Homo sapiens: one gene and its partners. The protein of the gene in region 2 purifies or fractionates together with the protein of the main gene of each other region. This does not show direct contact. Each region holds a gene or a part of one and is shown on either strand. Other genes may lie near its edges.

Region 1 (7,747 bases), on a different chromosome or scaffold from region 2:
ACCTATGTCTGTGCATGGGGTGGGGTGGGGAGGTCTGCTTCTGTTCCCATCTCCAGGCCATATCCTTTCTTTGGTCTGTCATTTATCTGGCAAATAAATATTGACATGCTTGGAAGACTACATTAGTATCATTCTAAAACTAGGACCTGCAGAAGCATTTGATTCAGTATGTTAGCTAAAAGTAATATAGTCCATGTTTCTCTTTATTATTTTAGTTTATCCCAAAATCAAAACATGCACAGAGGGGATAAGACTGTGAAGGCAGATTGAAAGACCTACCACCTCTCATGCTCATGAGGGGCTCTTTTTGAGCAGCTCCTTATTGTCCTTAGGTAGGCTCAGTCACAGCCAATTAGGAGTATACAGTCCATGACCTAATGTGGATTTTGACTCACTTATATTGGAAACACAAGCAATTGCCTAAACATCAAGCCAGGGAGTTTACATGGGTTTACTTCTATAGCACCCGCTACTCCCTGTGTCACGGTCCTTTCTCCTTTGTGTTAACATTGTTAGTTTCACTTGATTCTATTCCTTCTAAATTGTAAAATTCTGGAGGAAGGAAGGTTCACCATTGTATCTCAAGCTCCTAACATAGAGCCTTGGTTAGAGTACAGGCCCCATGAATATATGCTGAATTAATAATTACAACAAGTAAAAGATGTAGGGTCCAAAGTGTAGGAATTTATTATTTGGAAGAGATGAAAATAGGAGTCTGTATAGAGCTGCGATTTTTAGAAACTATTTAATTTATCTTAAACCATATGGAAATTGACACTAAAATTATCCAGTTTGTCAAATTTTGCATAATTTATATATCTTGAACTTTGAAACATTTCATTTCCCAGAGATTGCTTCAGCTAACTTCAAAAAAGTAGCTATTTTGTACATTACTGCAGCAGATGGTTCTAAGACCTGAAGATACAATCTTACAAGTCACCTGTCTTAAGTATTTTTTTCCTATTTGCTATATTCTGTCCTTGTTGGTATTTTTGTTTTAGAACTGTACCGGGTTGCATAGATGTTTAAAAAGATTTCTTTTCTTTTCATTTTGAAATAATTTTAGATATACAAAAAAGTGATGAAACTGGTACAAAGATTTTCCACAATCTTTCATCTAGATTCCCAACTGTGAACATCTTATGTAACCATAGCACTGTTATCAGCCTCATGACATTGAACAATACTATAATCTATGGATCTTATTCAAATTTTGCCAGTTGTCCCACTGTTGTCTTTTTTCTGATCCAGAATCACACATTGTTTTTAGTTGTCATGTCTCCTTGTCTCTTTTCATCTGAAAGAGTTTTTCAGTCTGTCTTTATTTACCTTTCGTGACCAAGAAACTTAAGGGCACTGGCCAGTTATTTTATACAGTCTCTCATTTCAGGCCAGAAGTTTTATATTTTTATGTAGCTGCATTTATTAATGTTTTCCTTTACTTATTTTATACAATGTCATCATAATGACTGTAATGTTCCAATGTCTGGGAGTAATTGTTAATGTAATCAGTTTTGTTGGGCATTTATGATGTCGTCAGCATTTACAATTACAAATAGTACTGTGCTGAGCATTTCTGTATCTAAATCTATTTTATATCCTTGCTTGTTATGAAGAGAAATTCCCCTGAGTTAAGGGATATATATATTTTTTAAAGGCATTTGTGCGAATCACCACAGTATCCCCTACAAAGTTGTACTGCTTTGCATTGCTGCCAGCAAAGTAGTGAGCTATTTTCAGATGTAAACTGTACTTTGTATTACTAATGTTCATTCTTAGAAATGACCATCTTTTGTTTTTTAGGCATGTGGTTTGGTTAAAAACTTGGCCCTTATGACACACATCACAACTGATATGGAAGATGGACCCATTGTTAAATTAGCCAGTAACTTGGGAGTAGAAGATGTGAATTTATTATGTGGGGAAGAGCTCTCTTACCCAAATGTGTTTCTTGTCTTTCTTAATGGTGGGTATATTATAGAGACATGTTGGTCCTAGATAGTCTGTGAAGAGGGGGAGGGAATCCATTATTATCCTGGTATTTAAAGCACAGATAGACTTTAATTCTGGGCCCAGGTTGACCTTCACTTAAAGGTAGAAAATACAATGATAACAGAAACAGTTACTTTGTTGGCTGGGTTATCCAAGGTTCTGAGAGGATATAGCTATCAGAGCTAAAGGGTAACTTTGCAGAAAGTGGCTGCTTTCTCCCCTTTTGCAGTTGCTGGCATATCCTTAGTGGAATACGGTTCAACATGGTATCTTTAAGTACAAGTCAAATATTGGAGTCATTCTGCAAAAATTATCAGATCAACTCTTATAATGAATTGACTTTGTCTAGCCATCTGATAATCAATATGTCAGCAGCCTGTGATAAGAGGATCCCTCTCCTTTGGCTCACACTCCAGTTATTTCTTTCATATACCTCTTCCCGTCTCCTTCGAAGTCTTCCAGAGACTTAGCAGCAAGTGTGCTCTCTTCCTTTCTGCTTTTGATTTGGTGCTGTGTGCCTGTTCTCTCCCTAGTATGCTCCATGAGCTTATCCCTTATCACTTGTCTGTTCTCTCTTCCTCTCCCCCTTCCTCTCATTCTAGGAGGCATTAACTCTTTTTTATATCTGCTGGTGAGGAAGGGGTCAGAGCCTCAGCAGGGCTGTTAACTGACTGCCTAGTTCATTGTATCCCAGAGGCTAACATTGAGTGAGCTTTTACTCTGCACTTTCACCCAGTGCCTCTTTGAATCCTCCCGCTAACCTTGGGAAGCAAAGTTCATTTTCCTCATTTCACAAATGTTGATTACAACAAGAAGCAGTTTAATAATAGCAGTTAGTAGGTGCTAGGCAGAATTCTCAGTACTTTAAATGATCAGCTCGTTTAACCTTTACTGCCAGCCTGTGGAAGTGATGGAGCCAGTGTTCAAACCCAGGTTGTTTGGACCCCAAGTTCATGCCCCAGCACTGTGCTGAAAGATGAGGAAAATGAAGCTGACTTTTCCAGTATTCCTCAGCCTGCATGTGGAAGGACTGGCCCTTAAGCATTCTTCCTTTGTTGCTTCCCTGCAACCTTGTGGACTGGCTGCAGGTGTTAATAATGGTATTTTCAAATAACTGCTTAGTGCTGATTACTATTTTTATTGGTTGGATATATTAAATCAGGTTGCATTTATTTTTTATTTCTGTCTTACCTGTTCTTTCTTTTTGCCTAGGTAACATCTTAGGTGTCATTCGAGACCACAAAAAGCTAGTGAATACATTTCGACTCATGAGAAGAGCAGGATATATCAATGAATTTGTTTCCATCTCAACAAATCTTACAGATCGATGTGTCTATATTTCTTCTGATGGGGGAAGGCTATGCAGGTATATATGCAGGTTACTAAAAAGAGTTTTTAAGAATCTCTTTATATTTGCTCTTGAAAGAAATAGACTTGTTTTTATTTTTGAAACTGTTTTAACCTCTTTCATTGTGAAGATAAATTTAATTCCGTGAGCAAACACTTCATGAATATGCATATTAGGTACCGAGGATTCAGATTAATGGGAGACAGAGTCTGCCCTCAGAGAGCTCAGTCTGCCGGGAAAGGCAGAAAAAATGACTAATAACAATCAACTGTGGTAGTGGTTAATGCTAGCCACCATTTGTCATTTTAATGGAGACACTATATGTGTAAGGCTTTAACTTCTTCATTCAACCCTATGAGGTTGGATTATTCTTGTCATTTAAGAAATGAGGAAACTGAGGTTCAGTGAGGCTAAGTAACTTACTGAAAGCTAAAGAGTGGTGGAATCTGTTTTTTATTTGAAAGTCCTTAGGATTCGTTTGACGCATGATTTTGCCCACTATAGTCTGTTGCTACAAACTGAGCTTTAAAGGAGGAGTAGGATTGTGTTAACTTGGAGGTAGGTGGGGAGGAGAAAGGCTGAAAAAAGGCAAGAATGAAAACATGGAGGCATGAAGAAATAAAATAACACTAGATCCAATGGAAAAGTAGGTTCCTTTTATTCATTCAGTAAGTATTTATTAAGGGCCTATTGTGCACAGGTACTATCTAGGAGCCGGAGGTACAGAGACGAATGTGACATGGTGTCTGGTTTGAGGGGCTATGCAGAGACATCAGCTGAGGACATTGCCTTGTGTCACAAGCCTTTTCTAGCATTACCGTAGTTATTCTGTGTATACCTCGGGTAGTGTTGAAGCACAAGGCAGTGAGCCAGCAGTAGCTGGAAGTCTGTCAGAGCTGGGAGAGTGACTGCATGCTTTCTTTCCTCCAGCATCCTTTCCTCCTTCATATGACACTACCTCATTTTCTTTTGAGGACTGCCTGTCCCCATTGGCAGGCTTCTTGGGATGGTCAGTCCAGCACCCTCTTCTCTTCAGCCAGGGGTTGGGCATATGACCCAAATGAGGTCAGTCAGACCCCCTCATCAGAGAATTTGAATCCCAGGTAAAATAAATCAAGGGAGGGAGGTGGTTGGACTTGATTCATTCTCCCAGTGCTACATGCAAGAGACTGCCTGTTAAACCTCATTTTCTGGATTCTTGGAACTGCTCTCGTTCCTTTTCTTTCTGAGGCTGAGCATTTCACCTTTTTCTTTGATTCTTATCCTTCCATTAAATTATTTTTTTTTTTTTGAGACAGAGTCTCACTTTGTCACCCAGGCTGCAGTGCAGTGGTACGATCTTGAGTCACTGCAGCCTCCGCCTCCCAGGTTCAAGCGATTCTCATGTCTCAGCTCCCCACCCCCGTCCCTGACCCAGTAGCTGGGATTACAGGCACACACCACTGCCCCTGGCTAATTTTTTGTATTATTAGTAGTGATGGGGTTTCACTGTGTTGGCCAGGCTGGTCTCGAACTCCTGGCCTCAAGTGATCCACCCACCTCAGCCTCCCAAAGTGCTGGGATTACAGGTGTGAGCCATCGCACCCAGCACCTGTAAATTCTTAATGCTTCCAGTAAACTTCATTTTTGCTTAAATTAGCCAGAATTGGTTTCTCTTCTTTGCAACCGAAGAATGGTTAGCTGATGATATACCTGTGTTTGAATCCTAACTTCCCACTTACTGAGTTGTGTGACTCTGAGTATACTACTTCAGTCTCTCAGCCTTGGTTTCCTTGGCTGTAAAATGGAAACAATAATGCCTGCCTAAGATTGTCCTGAGAACTAGTTGATAGAAGGTGTGGTAAGTGCTCAGTAGGGTGCCAGGCACACATTAGGTGCTTATTTATAACTTAATAGCATGGTCCAGTTAAGGGCAGGAATAACAGTGACATTTTCTAGGTTACTCTTTTTTAGGATTTCATTACATCCAACATAATATATATTCAAAAATAAAACTCTTTTATAGAAGCAACTTTATAATGGCATAACAGATCTAGCAGGAAAAAATAGTAGAATGCGTTGAGTAACGTAAGGATAACTGAGGCAGCTAAATGTGATCCCCTCCCTCTCCTCCGCCGGTTTCTGTCTTCTCATCTGAGGCTTAACCTGAATCCACTGCAGCGCTCAAATGAGGCATTAGTAGGCTCTGCTTCCCTACCAAGAAGGAGCCAGAATTTCGAGGTACTGTGGATTTCCATGAAAAGCTCACCCAGTTCATTTTTCAACAACTTGTGTTCCCCTTTTGTAATTGTGCAGCTCCTCTTCTTAACTGTTGAAAAGTGCTCATTAGTCCTCAAATAGTTATTTGGACTTTAGGGTAGAGCGCACAAGTGTCTGGTGGTTACTTGCTCCTCTCTGTAAGAGCTGCTTATCCAAATAGCAACAGCCCTTGACGTTTCAGTGCCGCATGCCATCCTTTGTGTCCGGGTTTCCTCATGGTGGCAAAGCCCTCCGAGGCAAGTCCCCACTGACAGTTACAGGTTAATCTGCCAGAATGCCTTCTCCACCTTCCACCCATTACGTCACTGAAAACCACAAAGTAAGAAAGCTTCATTCTCTGCCAACTTTTAGCCACTCTCTTTGGTAATGTGTAGCTTTAAGTATCTTGCTAACCTAGCTCAGTGATGTTTAGACTAAATCAAACTACTCTAAACATCTGGATATTCATCAGAACCTCACAACACAACGCCGTTATTACCCTAGGTGACAGTGCTTCTTTGCCTGTTAACTCCATGAGTAGTATGCAAAATTTTCCAATGTGAAATCGGGAAGTTTTTAGATTGATACATTACACCGTTTTTTAAAATATGGCATTAAAGGTTTTGTTTCCTTTTCAGACTTTGAGTATCATTTTTGTGTTGCCTTTTCATTCAAAACCAAATGTTTCCTAAGATACTTGCAGGAAGCACTGTGTGTGTGCATGAATATGTCCACACATACTCACATGTACACATGGGCTTGGGTATGTATGTGTGTGTATGTGAGAGAGAGCATAGTCCCCTACACCATGCTCATCCATACAAAAATTACCTGGTGTCCTCAGCAATCCAGGAATAGGTTTGTTTGTATTTACATCTTCCCTCATCTCACTTTGGTAAACTAACTTGCCTGTGTAATTTTTCCCTGGAACTATTATTAATTTGGTTTGCTGTTTCCATTCTAGACCCTACATAATTGTCAAGAAACAGAAGCCAGCAGTCACAAATAAACATATGGAAGAGCTGGCCCAAGGGTACAGGTAAGTAGCCAAAAGTAAAACTTACCAATCTCCTTAATACCCACATACATGATTTAAGAAAAGTGTATTTTCATTTTAGTGTTTTAATTTCTTTCCACCAAATTACCAGCCTGTTAAAAACCTATTTTGCTCCATGTGAACTTGCTTGGACATTGTAAAATATTCATCAATTTAGATCATGAGGGTTACCTAGTCTTGATGTCAGTTAGTACACAAGTAAGTGTTTCTGGTAAGAAAAGGACTTACATCATGTGTCAGTGTAGACACTGTGGGTCTCATTATGAGGTTTCTAAGGTCAGAATTTTTTTTTTAAGAAGTGGGGACTAGGTTCACAAGAGTTACAGACAGACACTTTGCTGTTTTTATTTCAGCAGTTTGTGGTTACTGTGTGAGCTAAGAATAACATGTTTCAGGTATCCCAATGTAATGATATTCTCTGGGAGAGAAAGGTGCTTTGGGCCTAAACGAAAGCCAGTATCTCCTGTTATTATATAAAATACTGCAGAAAAATGCTTTTTAATGATGTCTCTTTCACCAATATTTTCCCAGGAATTTTGAAGATTTCTTACATGAGAGTCTGGTTGAATATTTAGATGTGAATGAAGAAAATGATTGTAACATTGCACTGTACGAACACACAATTAATAAGTAAGTAGGATCCATAGCAACCATAATTAAAACGTGTTCTGACTATAGAAACTACCTTCTCTTTTACTGTCATCTTCAGTCCTTCTATCTTTTACTCTTTTGACAGGAACTGTTAGAAATATACAATCTTCTTTTTTTTGTTTGAACATGCAGGTTTGTTACATAGGTAAACGTGGGCCATGGTGGTTTGCTGTACCTATCAACCCATCACCTAGGTATTAAGCCCAGCATGCATTAGCTATTTATCTTGATGCTCTTCCTCCCCCAACCCCCTAACAGTCCCCCTGGTGTGTGTTGTTCCCCTCCCTGTGTCCATGTGTTCTCATTGTTCAGCTTCCACCTGTGAGTGAGAACATGCGGTGTTTGGTTTTCTGTTCCTGTGTTAGTTTGCTGAGGATGGCTTCCAGCTTCATCCATGTCTCTGCAAAGGACATGATCTTGTTCCTTTTTATGACTGCATAGTATTTCATGGTATATATGTA
Region 2 (7,841 bases):
TAAATAAATGGAGCTTTTCTTTTAAGTACAGTCAATTTGGTTGCAGGATTCCACTAAGCTGCAATAGACTTGCATCTGAATCTTGAGGGCAGTCCCTCAATATACAGGGGTGGGGGTGGAAGGTGGGCTGTAAATGAAAACTAACCTAAAAACCCCTGCAGAGCCAATGATAAAACTAAAAAAAAATTTTTAATTCAGTAAAGTAGCAGGATAAAAGATGAATATACAGAAATCAAAAGCCTTCATACATACAAACATAAACCAGTTATAAGATGTAACGGTCCAGAAAATCCCATTTTCAACAGTAATGAAGAAGGTTAAATACTTAGAATAAATTTCAAGCTGGGGCTGGGCATGGTGGCTCATGCCTGTAATCCCAGCACTTTGGGAGGCTGAAATGGGCAGATCACCTGAGGTCAGGAGTTCAAGACCAGCCTGGCCAACATGGCAAAACCCTGTCTCTACTAAAAATGCAAAAATTAGCTGGGCGTGGTGGCATGTGCCTGTAGTCCCAGCTACACAGGAGGCTGAGGCACAACAATCGCTTGAACCCGGGAGGCGGAGGTTGCAGTGAGCCGAGATCGCGCCATTGCACTCCAGCCTAGGTGACAGAGCAAGACTCTGCCTCAAAAATAAATACATACATACATAAATTTCAAGCTGGGTACAGTGGTTCACACCTGTAATCCCAGTACTTTGGGTGGCTGAGGTGGGCAGATCACTTGAGCCCAGGAGTTCGAGACCAGCCTGGGCAACACGGCAAAACCTCATCTCCACTAAAAATACAAAATTTAGCCCGGCATGGTGGCAGGCACCTCTAGTTCCAGCTACTTGGGAGGCTGAGGCAGGAGAATAGCTTGAACCCAGGAGGCAGAGGCTGCAGTGAGCCAAGATCACACCACTGCACTCCAGTTGGGGTGACAGAGCAAGACCCTGTCTCAAAACAAATACATAAAGATGATTTGTTTTAAAAAAAAAAAATTAAAAAGAAACAGGCAAAAACTCTTGGTCAAAAAGGTTGGCTAAAATAACAAAAACATTTTAAAAAGAAATAAGAAAAACCTATATATGGAAAACTGGAAACACTCCTGAAAGACACAAGTAGACCTGACAAATACAAAGACACTCTGTGGTCTTGGGTAGCAAGACTGAACATCATAGAGATGTCACTTCTCCCTAAATTAATTATGAATATAATGTAATCCCAACTAAAATACCAAAAAGCTTTTTTAAGGAACTAGATAAAGTTGATACTCAGTTCATATGGAAGAACATGTAAGGACAGCCAAATAAAAATTAGGAGGAGAATCTGATCTAGCAGATATTGAAACATAATTACATAATTAAAACAACATGGTACAGGCATAAAAGTAAGGAGTCCTTGCTCACCAAAGCAAGTTAAAAGAAAAAAAAAATGGGCTGGGGATGGTGGCTTATGCCTATGATCCCAACACCTTGGGAGGCCAAGACAGGAGGACTGCCTGAGGCCAAGAGTTCAAGACCAGCCTGGGCAACATGGTGAGACCTCGTCTCTATTAAAAATTTCCTTAAAACTAGCCAGACGTGGTGGCACACACCTGTAGATCTAGCTACTCTGGAGGCTGAGACAGGGGGAATGCTTGAGCCCAGTAGTTCGAGGCTGCAGGGAGCTATGATTGCGCCACTGCACTCCAGCCTGGGTGACAGAGTGAGAAACTATCTCAAAAAAAATAAATAAATAAACAGTCCAGTGAAATAATATAGAAGTATACTCAAGTATGCATGGAACTTTACTACATTTAGAGATGAGGTCTGAGGCTGGTCTGGAACATTATACACGTAGCATCTCAAATCGCTGTTACAAGCCAGGTGCAGTGGCATACACCTATCCAAACTAGTTGGCAGGCTGAGATGGAAAAATCGCTTGAGCCCAGGAGGTCCAGACCAGCCTCAGACCTCATCTGTAAAAAAAAAAAAAAAAAAAACACTACCAAAAAAAAAACTCACTAAGGCAAAGGCAGACTTTTAAATAAATCATACAGATACAACTATTTATGAAAAAAATAACACCGACTTATATACCTTATACTATAGCCAGGAATAAACTCTAAATTAATCGGGGATCTCAATTTAGAAAATAAAACCAGACAAATCTATAAAAAAAAATAGGTGAATTCCTCTTTAACATAGGTATATATAGAGGCTTCCTAACTGTGACTTAAAATCCCAGATGCAATAAAAGATAGATCAATTTGACTACATCAAAACAAAATAAGAACTTTTGCATGGCAAAATAACACCGTGAACAAAGTCAAAGGATAACTGATAGGGAGAAAATATTAAACATTTGCAACATATAATCACAGAAAAATTGATATTCCTATTATATCAATGGATATTAAAACTAATGGGTGAACATTAGAAAACTAAAAGGATATTTATAGTCTCAAAGCATCACCCCACAAAATTCTTATTACAAACAGAAAAACAGCCATATTTAAAAATAGTAATTTTTGTTGTTGTTGTTTTTAAGATGGAGGGAGTCTCACTCTGTCACCCAGGCTGGAGTGCAGTGGCGCGATCTTTGCTCACTGCAACTTCTGCCTCCCGGGTTCAAGAGACTCTCCAGCCTCAGCGAGTAGCTGGAATTACAGACATGCACGACCACGCCCAGCTAATTTTTTGTATTTTTAGGAGAGATGGGGTTTCACCATGTTGGCCAGGCTGGTCTCGAATTCCTGACCTCAAGTGATCCACCCGCCTCGGCCTCCCAAAATGCTGGGATTACAGGCGTGAGCCACTGCGCCCGGCCTAAAAATAGTAATTCTTTATGAAAAACGTAGCATACACCACTTTATAAAAATACTCAAAGTTAACATCACCAGTAATGGGACAAATCAACATCACGTGCCTCCCAATGTGATTCCTTGAAAAAACACAATTCAAAAATTAGTCACCTGAATCAAATCATGAGGAAACATGAGACAAACCTAAACTGAAGGATGCTCTATAAAATAACTATCCTACATGCTTAAAAAATGTCAGTCATGAAATACAAAGTCAGACTAAGGCACTGTTCCAGATTCTAAAGGAGTATAAGGCATGTGAGAATTAAATACAATGCACATCCAGATTTTCTCCTGCTATCATGGGGAAATGGCTACATCTGAATAAGATCTATATGTTAGCTAATATTATAGTATTATGTCAATGTTAATTTCCTGATTTCTGATAACTGCACTGAGGTTATATAAAATTATATCCTTGTTTTTAGGAAAAAGACACTGAATTATTCAAGGTAAAAGAGTATTATATCTGTAACTTACTCAAATGATTCAGGAAAAATATATATTTATATAACATATAAAGTCATATATAGATAAAGAATAAAGTAAACATGGTAGAATGTTAACATTTTGGGAATCTGATAGAATAATTATGGCAATTATTTGTATTATTCATGTAACTTCTGTAAATCTGAAATTAAGGTCAAACTGTAAAAAAAAAAAAATTTTTTTTAATTATAAAAAAAATTGAGGAGGGTTAAAAGTGTTAGAAACAAACAAAAAAAACCACCACAGCACACATCAAGTATATTGCCAAAGTAAAGCAAAAACTTCCTGAAAGAGGAACCCAAAGTGGTAGAGCTGTATATAATTTCAAATTTGCCTTTCCAAATCCTTTATTTTTTAATATATATGTATGCATATGTATGTGTGTGTGTGTGTGTGTGTGTGTGTGTGTGTGTGTATATATATATATATAAAACCACATTTCCTTTATCTTTTTCTCTTTCTCTCTCTCATATATAAACAGAATCCTGCTGATAGAAATAAGTGTAACCGGCCAGGCACAGTGGCTCATGCCTGTAATCCCAGCATTTTGGGAGGCCCAGGTGGGTGGATCATCTGAGGTCAGGAGTTCGAGACCAGCCTGACCAACATGGAAAAAACCCCATCTCTACTAAAAATACAAAATTAGCCGGGTGTGGTGGCACATGCCTGTAATCCCAGCTACTCAGGAAGGCTGAGGCAGGAGAACTGCTTGAACCTGGGAGGTGGAGGTTGTGGTGAGCCGAGACTCCAGCCTGGGCAACAAGAGTGAAACTCCGTCTCAAAAATAAATAAATAAATAAAAGAAAGAAGTGTAACCTTTTTTTAGTTCCTAACACCAAGAAACCCTCCAATACCTTTGGCAGTCCCTGCATCCAAGGCTACAGAACCCATATCTTTTCGAAGGCGTTCCAGTTGTTCTCTCTGCTGTTGGCTCTCTGCGTTGGCCTGTATATACAGAGAAAAATGTCATCATATTCAAAAAGGAGTCCCAAATTAGATGCCAGACTTCTCAGTGGAGATGAAGAATTATACAAATACTAGAGGCTACATAAAAACTGATGCAGATAAGGGACGTCTGGTATAGGGACAGAAACACTAAGTAGCGTGGGCCTGGGTTACTGCAGAAGTTTAGACTGGAGGGCTCTGCAGACTGATTTAGAGGGTTCAGAAACGGAACACAAAAAGGTTTCAAAAGAACCCTCAATTCTAAAGTGTTGAGTTCAGTCCAGGGTGGATCCCCTGCTCTGTTAATTGAACTGGAACATTTAAACTGGCTAGGCAAAATGCCTACATAGAAAGCATTACTCTTTATTCATCCCCAGCCTACAAAATGAAAAAACAAAAGATACAATAAACTTTATTATATGGGGGAAAAAAAACACAAAAACCTGAAGTAGACATAGCAGGAAGGCTCAGAGACAAAGGATCCAATGAGCCTAAGGAAGCAGGACACTCGATCATTTGGGATAAGAGAAGGCTGGGCATGGTGGCACCTGCCTGTAATCCTAGCACTACAGGAGGCCCAGCAGGGAGGACTGCAGGAGCTCAGGAATTTGAGACCAGCCTGGGCAACACGGTGAGACCTTGTCTATACAAAAAATTTACAAAATAAAATTAGCCAGGCATGTGGTACATACATGTTGTCCTAGCTACTCGGGTGGCTGAGATGGGAGGATCGCTTAAGCCCAAAAGGTCGAGGCTGCAGTGAGCCGCGATCGTGCCACTGCACTCTGGCATGGGTGACAGAGTGAGACCCTTTCTCAACAACAAGAAAAGGAGTTGTGAAGCACCACTACACTCTTATACAAAATTCTACAACTAGCTTTAAATTGACCTCTGAAAGGGAAGAAACATTAAGGAGACTTTCCGCACCCAGACAACATACATACAAATTTACAAATTTAAATTAACAAGTATTTAGAAGATACACTGAAATTTCATTAGCCACTTGTACCTCAATAAAGCTACAAAAAAAACTTTTTTAATTAAATAAAAGATACATTAATAACCAAAACAAAAGCACTTATGTCATCAAGATTGAGCTGGGTTTTTTTAATGGCCCTTTTAAAATATACAAACAGCCTCCCTTCTTACCAGTGATTTTTTCAGACGTTCATATTCAGGACGATACTCCCTGTAAAGAGAAACACTTTCTAAATTCCTTTGCTTAATCCTCTATCCTACTGACTCTCCACATCCCCTTATCTCTATTTTCCTAAGACTGACAATAATAAAACATCTGACTTCATTCAACATCAGATGTAACAAATCTTAGTCACTGACAGAGTCTACCCAATGGAATTAAAAGCCAAGGTGCCCGCTCCCACCTTGGAACCAGGAGACACAATCCTGACTGCTGGGCTGGAAAGATTAATATTGGTGAGAACATGACTGATGAACTCACCATTCATTTGAGATAAAAGGGTGAGATAAGTAAAAGATAAGCCTGTTGAGCTCAGGACGTGCAACATACAATTATGTGCTTTACTTGAACAACAACAGTGAAAGGATACAGAAAAGAGTCTATCCTAAGGTTTTGATAACACCCTTGTGTCTAATGAATCAAAATCAAAATAACATGTCTGAAAACCAAAATATGGTTGTTAGGATCTTGCAAAATATGAAGCCAAAGACACATGACACTAATAAGCCGGCTATCATGCCACAGGCCTAAGGAAAGTGCACAGGGCTCTGACTCCACTTTTCTTTACTTGAATTCCAGTATTAACAATGACAATAGTTATAACATTTATTATAAAATGTGCTTACTATATGTCAGCAATTGTGATAAGTGCTGTATACGTTTTCTCAATCTTCACAACAACCTTAGTGCCAAATCCAGCCCACTGCCTGTTTTCATAAATGTTTTTCTGTAACACTAGCCACGCCCATTAATTTACAAATTGTCTGAGGACGCTTTTGTCCTACAATGGCAGACGTGAGCAGTTGCAACAGAGACTATATGACCCACAAAGCCTGAGCTACCTACTGTTTAGCTCTTTACAGAAAAGTCTGATGATCCCTGCTCTTAATCACTCAATACAATGAAGATTTATACTTCTATTTAAAAAAAACAAAATTTAAAGGGAACTTGTCACCCCTAAGTGTGGTCTGATTCAATACACATATGCAAACCAAATATAATACATCCATCATGAAAATGTAATGCTTTTCCTGGAAAAACTGCTTTCATATCAGAATTGTAGGTTATTAAGAATGTCATCAATAGAATTTTCCTTTATCCTCACCTTTCATATTCTTCGGCAGCACTGGTAACTTGCACAAAGAGTTCATCTAATCCAGTACCCAGAACAGCAGAGACACCCACCACCTGCCAAAAAGCATCATAAATGCCACTAAAGAAACCATTGTATATTTTTTAATGAAGTACATTAACTTGTTTAAATGTCATAAAATCTTAGTAAGAGTGGTTTATATTTTGAGAAGTCTTTGGCAAAAAGCCAGGCTAAAAAAGAACAAAACAGCACACCCAGTCAAAAGTCACAGAAATAAGTCCATGGAAAATAAAAAATTGAAAAAGAAAGATATGGCCTGAGTGCAGTGGCACATGCCTATACTACCAGTACTTTGGGAGGCTGAGGCAGGAGGTGCACTTGAGGCCAAGCATTCAAGACTGGCCTGGGGAACATAGCGAGACCCCAGTCTCTACAAAATATAAAAAATTAGCTGGGTATGGTATACCGCACACGCCTATAGTCTTAGCTGCTTGGTAAGCTGAGGCAGGAGGATCCCTTGAGACCACGAGGTCAAGGCTGCAGTGAGCTGTGATCCTGTCACTACACTCTGGCCTGGGTAAAACAAAGCAAGATCCTCTCTCCAAAGGGAAAAAAGAAAAAAAAAAGATAATTAGGACTGAACAATTAACAGGACTTATTATCTATTCCCTAACAAACCAAACCAAATCACTTTCTGCTTTGTCTATGTCTTTCCTTGGGCAATTAACCCATTCTGCCTTTGCTTACATAAATCTTACCCTTCTTCAAAGCATACCTCTAATGCTACATCCTCCAAAATCTGTCATTTTGATCTGCCGCCTCACAATCATCAGGCCCAACTTCCAATCTTTCTTAAGGTACTTACTACAATATATCATATGTTTTAATTCTGTGTGTAGCCTTCTCTCCCAAATAGACTATAAACTCTGAAGCTGGGGTCCCTATCTTATTCTTCTTGTACACTCCACAATTTTTAATAAGCAATGCTTTAAAAGTTACTTTTCAGTAGGTAATAAGCTTCCTTTCTCAGCCAGGTTCAAAGCCAATCCTATGGGTTAACAGATTATCTGGAGAGGCTGTCAGTGTGAGCAGGAGAGAAAATTTACCCTGAGTGAGCTGTAAAACTCATCTAACACCAGGCTCATTGAACGAGTCAGGTTACTGACGTATGTAGTCTCTTGATTCAAGGCATCTTGGAAAGCCTCAAAATCCTGCATCCATTCCACTGCAAAGCTGTGGTCAATGATGTCAGTCTGTACCAGAGAGAAGTCAATTATGAGCAACCAGAGCC
Region 3 (7,747 bases), on a different chromosome or scaffold from region 2:
TGAATGGAGGCATGGATTTTGCATTGTCTCCTCACAGGCACACACAGGACCCTCACCCAGGGGCCCCTGACATGGCAGCATGGGCAGCAGCAGAGTAGGGCTTACAGAAGTGCCGGGGCAGGTGAAATGCCCACAGTCCCCAAGTCCCTACCTTCCAGTCCCCAGGACAGGGCGAAACTAAAAGGGGCAGCACCTCCAGGGGACACATGCAGTGCTGGGTGCAGAGCCCAGGGCTGAGCCATGAGGCTTAGGTTTTAACAGGGCTCTGCGGCTGCCTTGCTGCAAGACTTTTGGCAAGTCCCATGCCTCTCTGGGCCAGTGTCCTCAGGTGTGTGACGGGAGGACCCCTCTTGGCTTTCATTCACTTATGGTGTAAATATACACACGTGGTCCTATGTAATACGCGATGCGCCATTGCAAAAGCCTTCCATGATGAAAACGTGTAACAAAGGACAACAGCCGCAAGGTGCTGACAAACTGCGCTGGGCACCTGTGGAGCAGTGCAAGGGCGCCACCAGGTGGCAGTAACACGAATATACTCTACAACTATGAGGAGCTTTCAAGGCATTGTATTTTCTTAAAATGTTCAACATTTCACATTTTGTCACATTGCTCACCTTAAACTACATTACTTAAAAAGTGAGTTATTAATGCAATTAATGCTACATCATTCAGAATCAATATAATTCAAGTAAAACGTAGCCACATTATTTACCAAGGGTCTGCACTGGTAATATCCAGGCATTATTCCGGGTACTGGGAACATAAAGCAGGAGTCAAAACAGACATCCCTAATCCCTTGAAACTGATGGTCTCGTGGAGGCAGCACATGGTCTAGGGGAGGATTCGCCGAAGAGAAACCACTGAAAGGCATCAAGCCCCACGCTCAAGACCTGTGATCCCCAGCAGAGTATGTAAAAAATTCACACTTAAAGACACATCTAAACGAACCCGTAGAAAACCAAAAACAGAGAAACTCCTAAAAGCAGCCAGAGGAAAACAAAGGCAGGCTGCCTTCAAAGGAATAAGAACAAAACTGCCAACAGAAACAATGAAGTCGGAACACAACAAAATCATATCAACGCGTGGAAAGGAAAATAACCACCAATCTAGAATTCTAGAACAAAGGTGAAATAGACATTTCCAGACACACAAAAACCAAGGAAATGCATCACCAACAGACCCACATTAAAGGAAATACTATAGCATTCTTTAGGCAGAACGAAATGATCCCAGATAGAAACTTAGAGATGCAGAAAGAAATGATGACTAAATTATAAACATGCGAGTAAAGAATATTGATTGACTGGATACAGTAATGTCTTATGGGGCTGAAAACATACAGAGAATTAAAATACACCAGGCCGGGCACGGTAGCTCACGCCTGTAATCCCAGCACTTTGGGAGGCCGAGATGGGTGCATCACCTGAGGTCAGGAGTTCAAGACCAGCTGGCCAACACAGCAAAACCCTGCCTCTTCTAAAAATACAAAAATTAGCCGGGCGTGGTGGCAAGCGCCTATAATCCCAGTTACTTGGGAGGCTGAGGCAGGAGAATCGCTTAAACCCGGGAGACAGAGGTTGCAGTGAGCTGAGACTGTGCCACTGCACCCCAGCCTGGGCAAGAGAGAGAGACTATCTCAAAAAAAAAATAAAAATACACCAATCCTGTGCTCTCTTCGGCAGTACATATACTAAAATTGGAACACTAGAGAAGATTGGCAAATTAAAAAGGTAAAAAAATATATATATACCAATCTAGCAGTGTGTAAGTATGAGGATAGATATAAAATATTCTAAGATCTCTGAATAGATTGGAATGGGGTAAAAAGCAGCAATTAACATTAAAATGTGTTAAGTCATGAATGTAAGCTGAAAACTGTAGGGTAATCAATATATGAGCCCAAACAGTGTAACTTCCAAGTTAGCAGGAAAAAATAGAAACAGAAATGAATCCAGCAGATGGTAAGAATGATATAAAAATCCAATGTAGGCAGGACAAAGGGTACTACAGGGTGACTATAATTAAGAACAATTTATTGTATAATTTTAAATAGCTAGAAAAGTGAAGTTTGAATGTGCCCAACACAAAAATGAGAAATGTTTGAGGGGATAGATATGTTAATTGCCCTGATTTGATCATTACATTGTATACATGTATTTAGATTTCACACTGCCCCCATAAATATGTACATTATGTGTCAATTTAAAAAATGTTTAAATGCGGCCAGGCACAGTGGCTCACACCTGTAATCCCAGCACTTTGGGAAGCCGAGGCGGGCAGATCACGAGGTCAGGAGATGGAGACCATCTTGGCTAACACAGTGAAACCCCATCTCTACTAAAAATACAAAAAATTAGCTGGGCGTGGTGGCGGGTGCCTTGTAGTCCCAGCTACTCGGGAGGCTGAGGCAGGAGAATGGCGTGAACCCGGCAGGCAGAGCTTGCAGTGAGCCGAGATCGCACCACTGCACTCCAGCCTGTGGGACAGAGCGAGACTCTGTCTCAAAAAAAAAAACAAAAAAACAAAAAACAGTTTAAATGCAATGTAGGCAGGACAAATAGAAAGCACTGTAGATTTAAACCCAAAGCACTAGTAACTGCATTAAATTTAAAAGGACCAAATGCTCCCATTAAGAGAATACAGCGTAGGCCGGGCCCGGTGGCTCACGCCTATAATCCTAACACATTGGGAGGTCGAGGTGGGTGGATCACTTGAGGTCAGGATTCGAGACCAGCCTGGCCAACATGGTGAAACCCGTGTCTACTAAAAACACAAAGATTAGCTGGGCATGGTGGCGGGCACCTATAATCCCAGCTACTCAGGAGGCTGAGGCAGGAGAGTTGCTTGGACCTGGGAGGGAGAAGTTACAGTGAGCCGAGATTGCGCCACTACACACCAGCCTGGGCAACAAGAGTGAAGCTCTGCCTCAAGGAAAAAAATAAATAAAAATAAAAAATAAAAAAAGCAACTTACCTCTTCACCACCCAGTTCCCTTGGACCAACATCGCCACCTTCTGGATGCCCCGCAGAACAGCCACGGAATCGATGGAGGGGCCCAGGAGGCTCATCAAGTTGGCAAAAGGCATGACCTTCACTGAGGAGGACGCAGGAGACATCAGACAAGGAAGAGGGGCCGGGCCCTTCCCTCCCCTCCACCGAGAGTCCGCATAGCTTCAAGTTCATGTAATAACCCCAGAATGTGATAACTAACAGTAATGACACCCATCATAGCCAACAGCTGACACTCTCAGGCTGCTCACTACATGCCAGGCACTGGGCACCTCATGAAATCTGAGGATTATATGAAGTGCCCCTTAAGGAAGACTTGAGGGGTGCCTCAGGAGGAAGGGTCTATTACTACTCAGACCTGGAAAGGCTTCAAAGCTCACCCATGATCTCTTGGCTAGGAAGTAGCAGAGCCAGGAAGTGAACCCAAGCCACTTGGCTCCACTTGGTACCCTCAATCACTGTGCTCTGCTCCCGCCCAAGTGAGCCCTGGGCAGGGCCCAGGGAAAGTCCAAAATTTGGCTGGGCGCTTTGGCTCACACCTGTAATCACAGCACTTTGGGAGGCCGAGGGAGGCAGATCACTTGAGGCCAGGAATTTGAGACTAGCCTGGCCAACAAGGCGAAACCCCATCTCTACTAAAAATACAAAAATTAGCTGGGCGTGATGGCGGGCACCTGTAGTCCCAGCTACTCCAGAGGCTGAGGCATGAGAATTGCTTGAACCCGGGAGGCGGAGGTTGCAGTGAGCCGAGATTGTGCCACTGCACTCCAGCCTGGGTGACAGAGCAAGACTGTCTCAAAAAAAAAAAAAGTTCGAAGTCCTCTGCAGGAAGGAAGCCTAAAATCCCGAGCATATCATGGAGCTCCCCTCTCTCCTTAGACTCCTAAGAGCTCATGGTGGCATCTCAAAGGACGAGCCCAGGTTCTGCGGCTCCATTCTGAACTCAAGGATCAGGTCTGTTGTTCACCAGCCACGGGTACCCTAAAGGTTCTGGCACTCAGAGTCCTCTGAGAAAAGGAGACCAGTCCTTATGGTGCCAGGTCTGGCAAGAGTACCCAGAAGCAATGCCAGTGAAGACATTGTCATGAAAATGACCCTAGTTGAGCCGGTGCAGTGAATGGCGTCTGCTTGTAGGCCCAGCCACTCGGAAGGCTGAGGCAGGAGGATCACTTGGGCCCAGGAGTTACACAGCAAAACCTTTAAAAAAAACCTTTAAAACCTTTAAAAAAACCTTAAAAAAAAAAACAACAACAACAACAACAACAACAACAAAAAGCCCCTAGTCCGTGTTCGCCTGCAAGGCCCTGTACTTTAGAAGCCTCCTCTCTCTGATTCCTCACATTGGCCCCCAGGAACTATCATTAGTCTCTTTTCACAGAAAAACAAACAAAGCCTCAGAAAGGTTCATGACCTGCCCAAGAGCATGGCAGACAAGTGGTGAGCATGGCACAGGAACCCGAGCCCGCCTGTGGGGGCCAGACACACTACTGTCCTACATTCACGGGAACCCGGGCTGCCTGCGGGAGCTGGCCGCACTGCCGTCCTGCGTTATCTTTCCAGACAAGGATGCAGCTGCAAAGCTGGGCAGGCTGTGGGCAGCAGGGGCCTCTGGCCTTGTCCCCTGGTCCTCACTGTCCCACAGAGTCCATTCCTCAGGAGCCACTGGGACTGGGGCCCCCGGGTGGGCAGGGGGTAGGCACCCACCATTCTTCATCAGGATCTTGATCTGATCGGCCAGGGGCAGCGTGCGCAGCTGGGCCATCGACAGGACGTTGCTGGGGGCCACAGGCTTGTCTCTGGGAAAAGCAGAGGGGACGGGTTAGAGGCAGCCAGCCCGGAAAGGGAGAGGGTGTCCTGCCGCCTCTACTCACTTCTCCTCCTCCTGGCTGGGTGGCATCAGCATCATCAGGTACTCACTGCAGGGACATGGCAGGGGCAGAGGCTCAGGGCTGATCCAGGCTGGACCCTCCTCACCAGCCACCCAAGTGAGGGTCTGGGGAGAGGGTGCAGACAGCCCACCCCCGCCCTCCCCCAGCAGCCCTGAGCCCCTGCAGAAAAGTGGACCATCTCTTTCCAGGCCCACCCTCCTGGCCTTCTCCAGGGGACAATGGGCTCCACCCTCATGCTACAGGAGGGGCCACAGTCCTCTGGGAGGATCCACACCAAGGACCCCTGGGGACCCTGGGCAGGCATCCAGTTTGCATGCTGGCCCAGCCCATCCCACCTGGGTGACTTGACGAGCTCCGTGTTCTCCACCCCGCTTGAGCCGGGGCACAGCAGGTACTGACGCTCATGCTCAGAGCGACTGTCCTGTTGGAGGAGGGCAGGGTGTGAGAGGAGCCTCAGCTGATGGCCCTGGCCTGGGCCCCCTCCCCCAAGGCCTCCCGTCTTCCACTCCATGGCCAGCCACAGGACCACATCCAACCTCCTGAGCACGGCACCCAAGGCCTCTGACGTGGCCTCAGCCACTCATCTTCCTGGCCTTATGACCTGCCCAGCCCCAGCCCCCAAGCCTCGATGCCTTGTCTGTAACACAGGTACACCACCAGCAATGACAAAATGATGGCTAACATTCACTGGGCATCTAGGATGTGGTGGACTCTGTTCCACTGACTGTAAATATACTAACCCATCTCACCCTCAAAATAACTTGGCAAGGTAGGTACTATTATTACTACTCTCATTTTATAATTAAGAAAACTGAGGCTCAGAGAGGTTAGCTAACATGCCCAAGGTCACACAGCAGGAAACAGCAGTGTCTAGAAGTTTGACCCCGAGTCTAAGGGTCTGTTAACACAAATCTCTTCCAAGAAGGTTCCAGAGAAATCAGGAGTTGTTCCCCACCCCAGAAAATATTGGGAGCCCTGGCCCATGGTGTCTTTGGAAGCATCCCTCACTCAGTACACAGTTTCAAGGGTTAGGTTCTAAAATCAATGCACCAGGGCCAGGTGGTCGTGGCTCACGCCTGTAATCCCAGCACTTAGGGAGCCTGAGGTGGGCAGATCACTTGGAAATCAGGAGTTCGAGACCAGCCTGGCCAACATGGCAAAACCCCATCTCTACTAAAAAAACAAAAACAAAAAAATTAGCAGGTGCCTGTAGTCCCAGCTACCTGGGAGGTTGAGGCAGAAGAATCACTTGAACCCGGGAGGCGGAGGTTGCAGTGAGCTGAGATCGAGCCACTGCACTCCAGCCTGGGTGACAGAATGAGACTGTCTCAATAAATAAATAAATAATAAATAAATAAAAATAAAAGTAAATAAAGTCAGCGTACCAGATGAAAACCAAGCACAGTAAGAAAATCCCCTGGGCAGGTGGTGCTGGGAACTCTGGGGTGGCAACACATGACCGACCCTCTAGGACAGAACCGGAGAATGCATCTGGCCTGCGTTTAGGGCCTGGGCTGCAGCGAAAATATGTTACCAGGCACTAGCCCCACTGCAAGCCCAGCAAGATGCCCATGCCCAGGGGCCAAACCCCACCCAGGGAACCAAGGACTCGCATCTTTTCCTCTTGCTCTCCTGGGGCCCACGCTAAGTGGCTCGGCTGGAGTGAAGTGTAAACTGCCCACAGGACTCGATCCTCTATCTGTGGCTATGACTCATGAATTTGACTTAAGTTCAAGGTGAGACACGGAGGCCACACCATGACCCTTCCGGGCACCGAGGTGTTTCCCCCAGGACCCCACGAAGCCCCGCTCACCCTCAGGCCATAGTAATGCAGGTGGACCCAGGGCTCCTCTGCGTGCTTCTTCTGCAGGAACTCATAGGACTGCACACGGCGCTGGCGGGCCTGCTCTGACTCCGGCCGGGAGAACCGCACCTGCGGTGGGAAGGGGAAGAGGTCATACCGTCAGGCCTGTGACCCTTGCTGGACTGCCGTCTCAGCCCCTGCCAGAAGACCAGAGAACTCCGTATAGGGGTTTTCCACTCTCCCTTCCTTTCCTAGCACAGGTCGTTTAAATTCCGTTCCAACCGTGTCCCTCCCAGAGCTGCCTGCACACGCCAGGGAACGGCTTATACTTGCTCGTGCCTGCCCAGCCCAGAGGCTTGAGGGGGATTAGAGTCCCAGGCGCCAGAGCCAGCAGAGTCCTTAAAGCAGACAGGCCCAGGATGCCTTTTCTAAGTTCCCCAGAGCGGAAGGGAGTTTCTAAGGTCCTAATAAGCTACGGAGAGAACAGGATGAGCTCCCTGCGCCACCTCCATGTCCATTACGCCCGTGTTCCCCGGTCCTCAAGGGCTTCCAAACACTCACCACTCTCTAGCCATACTTGTGTATCATCATTCTACGTGTAGCATTTTTCTTTTGGTACTACTCATTTTAATCTAAATATGCTTAAATAGGGAAAACTTTACAAACCATAAATGGAAGGTTAAGATTCTTTGAAAAATCTTTAAAATTCAGGAATAACTATTAAAACGAAAACTATTCATCCGTGCCCCATAAAGAGGATAGAATCACAGTTAATTGACTTTGGCTCTGTTAAGATACAGGTTCATGGCAGAGCTGGTCTGCGGGTCCTCAGGGCTCCTGGCCCCAGCTTCCTGCTCCCAGGTGACTCTAGCCAAGCCCCAGGCACACATCTCCTGGATCCAGCCAGGGCTTCCATCTTGTGTATAGCTGGAACAACTCAGGTTGTTCCCTCCAGGTAGCCCAGCAAGAAGGCTCAAAAGCATGGGCCCTGTCTGCTCCACCTGCATTCTGTGAAGACCCGCTACCCCTTGGTCTCTGGTCC

Evidence for each region. The genes of interacting proteins can lie anywhere in the genome.
Region 1: the proteins of GPN1 (region 2) and POLR3B purify together in Homo sapiens (affinity purification with mass spectrometry; 4 studies listed by BioGRID and IntAct, with this or other methods). This does not show direct contact.
Region 3: the proteins of GPN1 (region 2) and POLR3E purify together in Homo sapiens (affinity purification with mass spectrometry; 3 studies listed by BioGRID and IntAct, with this or other methods). This does not show direct contact.

The regions. Positions count from the first base shown.
Region 1 is NC_000012.12:106,430,515-106,438,261, forward strand, and holds part of POLR3B (DNA-directed RNA polymerase III subunit RPC2), read left to right. Parts: intron 1-1,803; coding exon 1,804-1,966; intron 1,967-3,204; coding exon 3,205-3,358; intron 3,359-6,542; coding exon 6,543-6,617; intron 6,618-7,166; coding exon 7,167-7,265; intron 7,266-7,747. UniProt on the Homo sapiens protein: Catalytic core component of RNA polymerase III (Pol III), a DNA-dependent RNA polymerase which synthesizes small non-coding RNAs using the four ribonucleoside triphosphates as substrates.
Region 2 is NC_000002.12:27,638,847-27,646,687, reverse strand, and holds part of GPN1 (GPN-loop GTPase 1), read right to left. Parts: intron 7,804-7,841; coding exon 7,657-7,803; intron 6,646-7,656; coding exon 6,563-6,645; intron 5,449-6,562; coding exon 5,409-5,448; intron 4,646-5,408; exon of another isoform or gene 4,519-4,645; intron 4,260-4,518; coding exon 4,169-4,259; intron 4,121-4,168; exon of another isoform or gene 3,796-4,120; intron 1-3,795. UniProt on the Homo sapiens protein: Small GTPase required for proper nuclear import of RNA polymerase II (RNAPII). May act at an RNAP assembly step prior to nuclear import.
Region 3 is NC_000016.10:22,314,176-22,321,922, reverse strand, and holds part of POLR3E (DNA-directed RNA polymerase III subunit RPC5), read right to left. Parts: intron 6,835-7,747; coding exon 6,715-6,834; intron 5,323-6,714; coding exon 5,237-5,322; intron 4,929-5,236; coding exon 4,884-4,928; intron 4,809-4,883; coding exon 4,717-4,808; intron 3,098-4,716; coding exon 2,977-3,097; intron 1-2,976. UniProt on the Homo sapiens protein: DNA-dependent RNA polymerase catalyzes the transcription of DNA into RNA using the four ribonucleoside triphosphates as substrates.